Linked DNA regions of Homo sapiens. The protein of the gene in region 2 purifies or fractionates together with the protein of the main gene of each other region. This does not show direct contact. Each region holds a gene or a part of one and is shown on either strand. Other genes may lie near its edges. The genes, in order: AKAP5 and GPER1.

Region 1 (3,569 bases), on a different chromosome or scaffold from region 2:
AACAAATACCTTACATCTCATACTTCATCTTTATTACTTCATCTGTTTCAAGTAGTAACACAATCACTCAATTTACACAATGGGGGAATACACACTTTGAATCCTAACCTGTGAGGTAGGGAAGTGCACTCTGGTATTATGGCCATTTCACACAAGGAAAGATTGAAATAGGATTACTTTTTCAAAAAATATGGCAATCATTGATGAGATCAGATGCTTCCCTTTCAATATGTAAATAAAAATGCAAATAAGCCCTTCTCATTTTTGTAAAGTATATCTGGATTGAAAATAGTGATGAAGGCCGGGTGCGGTGGCTCATGCCTGTAATCCCAGCACTTTAGGAGGCCGAGGCGGGAGGATCATGAGGTCAGGAGATCAAGACCATCCTGGCTAACACGGTGAAACCCCATCTCTACTAAAAATACAAAAAATTAGCCGAGCGTTGTAGTGGGCGCCTGTAGTCCCAGCTACTTGGGAGGCTGAGGCAGAAGAATGGTGTGAACCCAGGAGGTGGAGCTTGCAGTGAGCCAAGATCGCGCCACTGCACTCCAGCCTGGGCGACAGAGTGAGACTCCATCTCAAAAAAAAAAAAAAAAGAAAAGAAAATAGTGATGAAAAAGTTAACTTTCAATATTCATGTAAAATGCTTTTTACTGGTCTCAACACACAGACATGAAGGAATACTGACATTTAAATTATAATGTGCTTTAGCAATAACTTTTCACTTTTCTATTCACCCACATTCATGGCTCATTTTTGGCCGAGAATAAATATTTGCACTAGATTATTAGGATTTTCCAGGACCATTACTACCAGGCTGGCTTTGAATCTACTCTCCCCTCTTTGGAGAGAAGTTGATGAATATGGCTCTTAAAGAAGTAATTCTGCAAGATGAATCCTATATTATCTGTGATAATTTACTTGGGAATTTTCCCTTCTCCTGGATGAAGAATAATATTCCCCTTGTTTTGTTTTTGCTGTTTCATTTTTTAACTTTTCACAGATAAATCCATGCAGAAATGGATATATACAGATCTGTTGAGGCAGAAAGAAAAGCGGGGGAAAAACCCACTCTCCCTGTTTCTACACTTTTGCACTTAGTAACAATTTGCCTGATTGAAGGATTTGTGAATGGTTCTCTTTTTTTTTTTTTTTTTTTTTGAGAAGGAGTCTCGCTCTGTTGCCCAGACTGGAGTGCAGTGGTGCAATCTTGGCTCCCTGCAACCTCCACCTCTCGGGTTCAAGCAATTCTCCTGCCTCAGCCTCCCAAGTAGCTGGGATTACAGGCGTGCACCACCACGCCCAGCTAATTTTTGTATTTTCAGTAGAGATGGGGTTTCACCACATTGGCCAGGCTGGTCTCGAACTCCTGACCTTAGCTGATCCACCCGCCTTGGCCTCCCAAAGTGCTGGGATTATAGGCGTGAGCCACTGCCCCTGGCCAAATAGCGCTTATAAGAGACTTAAGACTAGGAAACCACTCACGTTTAATATCAATATGCATATTCTGCACACTATCTGCTGAAATTGGGAAAATGCAATGTATTTTTTGAGTTAAGCCTGCTGCTTAGGAATGTAACAATTACAAATCACATTCACAAAAGTAGCTCACCTTATTCACCATTTTAAACATATATGTGCACTGTAAAAAATAAGTTTTTAAAAACTTAATGTGATGTTAGCCTATACACAGAGCTGAATTATCAAAAGGAAACCAGACTTTGTTATATCAGAGGTCATTAAAAAGCTTATGGCATACCATAAGTGCTCAATAAATACACCTTCCTCCCCCAAAGCACTCCAATCTCCATATGCCATTTTAGCAACTCCCTGTATGTTATGTCATTTTACACTGCAATCTGTGCTGACTTCCTCCAATCCAGAAGTGACTGCATTTCAGTGGTAGAGTTTTATAAACTTGACTTAATCTTTAGCACTTCTGCGCTGGAATTGTACCTTTTAAGTTCTAGAGATGATAAATCTCTCATTTGTTACTGAGTAAGAAATGCCACAAATGTATAAAAGAATTCTTCATTAAGCTTGTTTTTTCTGCCGTGACTCTGGAGAGTAAGTCACTGTAGAAGATTGTTTATTTTATTATCATCAGAGGCCATTTCATTAACCAGCTGTTCTATTGACAACTGAATAGCATTCTTGACTAGAGAAGAGGCTGTTTCAATTAAGAGTGTTTCATATTGTTCTGAAGTTCTATCCTCAAAACCATTATCATTAGCAAAAACCCCTACTTGCTCATTTTCAGCTGAAATTAAGAATTGCTTAGGGACATTTTTAGATTTTGTAACATCAAATTCACTGATTTCAGTGTCTGTAATAATAATAGCAATTGGCTCCATTCTTTTGCTTTCTTCTGATTTGGATTTCTCTTCAGTGATCCCATTTTCTTTAAAATCTGATTCTTGGCTCAATTCAGTATCTTTTGGCTTAGTTTCTTCAGCTACAATCTCTGTACTTTCATAGTCTTTTCCATTTGGTGCACTTTCTAGGGTACTGTTACTGGCTTCTTCCACAATTTGTTGATCTGGAATTGCAGGTAAAGGAGGAACATCAGAAAGTACTGGCTGCTGATGGTCTGTTTCTGAAGTTTCAAGTGGGCTTGCTTGCTGGGGTTGAACATCTTGTTTTTCCTTGATCGTTTCAATTTCTTCAAGGATTAGAGTTCCCGTTTGAATAGCAGAATGCCCATTATCTAATCCAAGTTCTACTGAAATCACTTTCTCTCCAGAAGTTGTGCTATTGCTCACATTTGATTCACAGACCTCATCACCATCTTTCCGTGAGATGCCTTCACTTAGATCCTGGGTTGACTTAGCCTTTGTTGCCTGATCATTCAATGGGGTCTGTGTTTGTATATCCAAAATTTCAGCTTCTTCCTGGACTTTGATGCTGCAGTCTGAGTCTTCTATAATTTTGGAATGATTACTCCTTTTTGGCCCTCTTGGGAATTTTATGCAGGGAATCTTAAGTCTAGATTTTGCCTTTTTCTTAGAAAGATCAGCATCCTCAGCATTTATTGCAGGTTGCATTTCACCCTCCAATGGCTTTTGCTGCTTTGAAGACTCTGACCTTTTCCTGCGTGTTACAAGACGTTTGAGTGAGGCCCAGGCCCCCCGTGTGGGCTCTGGCTGATCAGAAGCTCCTGCTTCTTGTGGACACTTCCTTGCCACATCAGCAGCTTCAGAGCCAGCTTTGGGCTTCAGTGCTTTGGCTGCTTTCTTTCTTCTCTTGAAGCAAAGCATGGATGCCTTTTCCTTCTGCCTTTCAGCCCCAGGACTACCTTCTGCTGATCTCTTCTCATCCTTGTTTTCTACATGAATTTCTGAAATTGTGGTTTCCATTTTTACACTGCACTCTTATTCTCTAGAAAACTGTATTCTCTCTTCCTTAGCAGCCTTTTGTGACAAAAAGATGAGCAAAAATGTCACACTAGGTAAAATTTCTTCCAGGCATATTCATACCTTTCATCTTACTCCATACAGTTGTTTTAGGTGGTTTCTCTAGTATAGAAATGCCCAGTTTCTCTATGGCTTGTAATTTCTCTCTTTAATTTC
Region 2 (4,377 bases):
AGAAAGCTGGACATCAGAGCAGAATCTTCTCTTACGATAAAACAGAAGTTCAGCGGTTTCCTCATGCTAGTTCTGTGTTCTAGGTACCAAAAATAAACTTATTTTCGTAATATAGAGTGAAAGGGGTCATTGTTTTGGGAAATAATATGTACGTTTTTATTTCATGTTTTAACAAATTATTGTAAAACCTAATATGTTTTTGCAATGCTGTTTGTAACCTAGGAAGAAACTCCAGGGAGAGAGTCCCTCCCGAGCTTATCCTCTGCAGAGAGGGAGAAGTGGGCTGTCCGCCCACGGCGGTGCCCGGGCTCTGCCGCCAGTGGGGAGGGTCCCGTCACCCACCCCGTGTCACCCTGGCTCTGCCGCCAGTGGAGAGGTCCCGTCACCCGCCCCGTGTCACCCCGGCTCTGCCGCCAGTGGGTAGGGTCCCATCACCTGCCCTGTGTCACCCCGGCTCTGCCGCCAGTGGGGAGGGTCCCATCACCCACCCCGTGTCACCCTGGCCCTGCTGCGAGTGGGGAGGTCCTGTCACCTGCCCCGTGTCACCCCGGCTCTGCCGCCAGTGGGGAGGGTCCCGTCACCTGCCCCGTGTCACTGTGCTCCTGGAAGTTCTCTATGCAGCGGGCCACGGGGGTCTCAGCCTGCAGACACTGGCAGTCTCTGGGGATGCGGGGGCAGTCACAGGGGGGTGCTGGTGGGGCCAGGGCTGCCGCTCAGCTCCCTACAGTGCCTAGGACAGGTGCCCAAGCCCAGCAGAGAATTACCTGGCCCAGATGGTGCTGGTGCCCTGGAGTAAACTAACACTTCAAAATGGGTTTGAGTTGTTTTTCCTTTGGGAATTTTCATTTTACCTTTTGAAATCATTAGGAGTTATTGTTTTGAATGTTTTTTTTTTTTGGTCACCCAGGTTGGAGTGCAGTGGCACAATCTCGGCTCACTGCAACTGCCGCCTCCCGGGTTAGAGTGGTTCTCCTGCCTCAGCCTCCTGAGTATCTGGGATTATAGGTGTGCACCACCACGCCTGGCTAATGTTTTATATTTTTAGTAGAGATGGGGTTTTACCATGTTGCCCAGGCTTGTATCGAACTTCTGACCTGTAGTGATCTGCCCGCCTTGGCCTCCCACGGTGCTGGGATTACAGGTGTGATCCACCGCGCCGGGCCAGGGGTTATTGTTTTGAAGTGCTGCAAAACCAGACTAGAGATTTGTTGACCTATTGCTTGAAAATACTTACTTAAAAAAAAAAAAAAAAAAAAGGCTGGCCTATAATCCCAGCACTTCAGGAAGATGAGGTGGGAGGATTGCTCAAGTTCAGGAGTTCGAGACCAGCCTGGGTAACATGGCGAAACCCTGTCTCTACTAAAAAAAGACAAAAAAAGTAGCTGGGCATAGTGGTGTGCGCCTGTAGTCCCAGCTACTCGGGAGGCTGAGGCAGGAGGATCGCCTGAGCCTGGCAGGTAGAGGTTGCAGTGAGCCAAGATCACACCACTGCACTCGAGCCTCAGCCGAGATCACACCACTGCACTCGAGCCTCAGCCGAGATCACACCACTGCACTCGAGCCTGAGCTACTGCAGTGAGGCCCCATCTCAAAAACAGGCGGGTGGGGAAGACAAGATGAATCACTGCCTCTGTGTCAGTTATTCTAAAAGTACTGAATAACCTTCACTTAGCTGGGGCTGGTGAATTTGATTTTGGTTATTTTGCACTCTTGATTCATCTTTAGTAGATAATACCATTGAACAGCATAAATGCCTCTGCTCTCAGGCTCTGTCGGGAAGGTTGAAAGACTCCGCATTTCGCCTCTGTATTTAATTTCTTAAAAACGGCACAGAGGACTTGTTTTGCTCTTTAAATGTAGAAATTTTGGAACGTATTAGACCGTGGCGTGGCAGGAAGTTTAAAGGTGGGCAGAACCCTCAACTTAACGTTTATTTTCTTTCCTAATTTTGTTAAATGAACTCCAAGGGAAAAATAGTTTAAAAACGAGTCATTCATTTCTTTCCCATGTAAATTGAGTCTTTTGATCGTTGCCAGACACCGAGAAGATACGGGACCTGGTGTCTGATGTGTCCTAGTGTCTGATGTGGTCCTGGGTGAGAGGAACCTAGTGTGCCATTCACCACTGGCCCCACGTCCTCACTGGAGGTGGCCATGGAGTTATAAACAGTGCAATACCTCATTTCAGATTTCCTCTGCTTGTCATAGAGAAATAAAGCCACACTTTAGTCAGCTGTATTAAGTCTGCATCTGTCAAAAGGCGTGTGGCCCTCCCAGGGCTTCAGGGTTGGTGAGAGTGACTGGGGCACCGCAGGGCAGGGCAGAGTGGGCACCCTCATTTTCTTGAAGTGAGACACGTTCTTGCTGGGACAGAACGTGACGGAATACTGGGTCCTGCTTTCAGCACGAGTTAGAAAGGCCGTCCAGGCAAAGCCCCTGCTGCGGTCACGCTGAGACCACCGGAGCTCCGGGGGAGAGGGGTCTGTGCCTTGAGTTTGGGAAGCTGGGTGCTGCTCTCACCAGGGGGTGAGGTGTCTGGTCTGTGTTCAGCTGTTCCCATAACAGGACAGCGGCCTGGGTGGCACCACCCACCCGCTCCCCTAGTCAGTGGTATGGCACCGCCAGGCCGAGGCTGAGTCCTACCTGGGTTGCAGCCCCTTCTGTGCTCCTGGAAGCCTCCTTGGTCAGGCCCATCAGGCTGGAGGTGCACTTGGAACCCGCTGCAGGAGGTGTACCTCTGCTGGACCTGCCGAATGCCTGAGCAGGGCTAGAGAGAGGAAGAGACCCGCCCTGGGAGCCCGCGAGGGAAGGTTCCCGGCTGGCTGGCGGGTGCGTCCTCCCTCTGAGCCAGTGAGTCTGCCCCTTGGCACAGGGCTTTATAGGCCCCCTCCGCCCCGCTCCTCTCTGGCTCCTCTCTGGCCAGGCTCTGGGCGGCCTCCTCAGAAGGCTAGTGTTAACCATTTTTTTGCTGGCCCTTTTTCTCCCACACTTTGGCAATCAGCTCAGTTCTACTAGACTTGTTTTTGTGGAAGTTTCTGGTTTAACTGCTTTTCTTCACCCACAGATACAAACCTTTCTTTAAGTTTGAAGGCATCATACTAGGTGTTGTGTATCTTTTAGGCAATAACCTGTCCTCCTGGGTTGAAGCAAGCAATATTCTTGTTTTTGCAACTGACCTGCGTTAAACACTAAATTTCATAATTAACTTAGTAGCATGTGCATGATCCATAAAGAATTTAACAGGAATTTCACAGACATTTGCAGAGAGAAGTGTAATCCCAAGAAATAGGCATTTCTGACAAGTAACTTAGGAATCTGAGTACTGGTTAAGCATCTGGAAATCTGAAATCCAGAGTGCCCCACAGTCCGACACTGTTGGAGCGTCGTGACACAAGTGGAAAATTCCACACCTGACCTCGTGTGGCGGGCTGCAGTCCAGGCAGTTCAAAGTTTGTTTTATGCATGAAATTGTTAAAAGTGTTTTTATAAAGTTGCCTTCAGGCAGTGTGTATAAGGTGTGTATGAAACACAAATGAATTTCGTATTTAGCTTTCTCATTCTGTACCTGCAGATATTCCAAAATCTGCAAAAATCTGAACTCCGAAACTCTTCCGGTCCCAAGCATTCAGACCAGGGACCCTCAGCCGGTAGTTTTCTCTGAGTGTTAGCGGTGCCTCAGGTCCCTCCTCCCGCGCTCGCTGCAGAAGCGTCGGAACTTACCTGCCGTCCAGATGTTGGTGGCCTCTTCCCCACCAGGGCCGCCTCTCCTGCTCATGGTTGCGGATTTCACAGTCTCGTGCAGGCGGAGAATAAACCTCCCTCCCCGGACTCTCGGGGCCGCTGAACTGCCTCATGCGGGGCGGCCACTTCCGAGTGCGCCCCCTACTGGCCATTTGAATTTTCACTCGCCGCTTCGGGAACCGATGGCCGCCCCATGAGGGCAGAGCGAGGCCCCCCAAGCCCGCGTGGGCTGTCCAGGCCGAAGGGGTCCTCAGGCACCGCCAGCCCCGGCTCTCCAGGCGGAGGGGTGGGTCTTCCTCAGAAGGGAACTTCAGCGAATCTCACTCCTACTTCTAGGTGTCGTTTTCCCTCTGTAATGTTTTGAAGTGGTGAGATTGAATGCTGAGTGATCCTTTGTCCGCTGAGTATGAGTAATGCGGCTGCTGCAGCCTGAGGCGTGGTTCAGAGACCTGCGTGGGCTCCCCCCTTCCCCCTCCCCCCCAGGAGAGCTGGTGCAGGCAGAGGACTGGGGTGCTGGGCCTCCAGGTGCACTCGGCCCCTCGGGACCTGCTCCCCGCCAGGAGAGCTGGTGCAGGTGCAAGAGTGGGGTGCTGGGCCTCCAGGGGCACTCGGCCCCTCGGGACCTGCTGGGGCTCAA

The links.
Region 1: the proteins of GPER1 (region 2) and AKAP5 purify together in Homo sapiens (co-immunoprecipitation; one study listed by IntAct). This does not show direct contact.

What each region holds. Positions count from the first base shown.
Region 1 is NC_000014.9:64,468,182-64,471,750, reverse strand, and holds part of AKAP5 (A-kinase anchor protein 5), read right to left. Parts: 5' UTR 3,357-3,569; coding exon 2,073-3,356; 3' UTR 1-2,072. UniProt on the Homo sapiens protein: Multivalent scaffold protein that anchors the cAMP-dependent protein kinase/PKA to cytoskeletal and/or organelle-associated proteins, targeting the signal carried by cAMP to specific intracellular effectors.
Region 2 is NC_000007.14:1,086,587-1,090,963, reverse strand, and holds the start of GPER1 (G-protein coupled estrogen receptor 1), read right to left. Parts: upstream 2,852-4,377; 5' UTR 2,643-2,851; intron 1-2,642. UniProt on the Homo sapiens protein: G-protein coupled estrogen receptor that binds to 17-beta-estradiol (E2) with high affinity, leading to rapid and transient activation of numerous intracellular signaling pathways.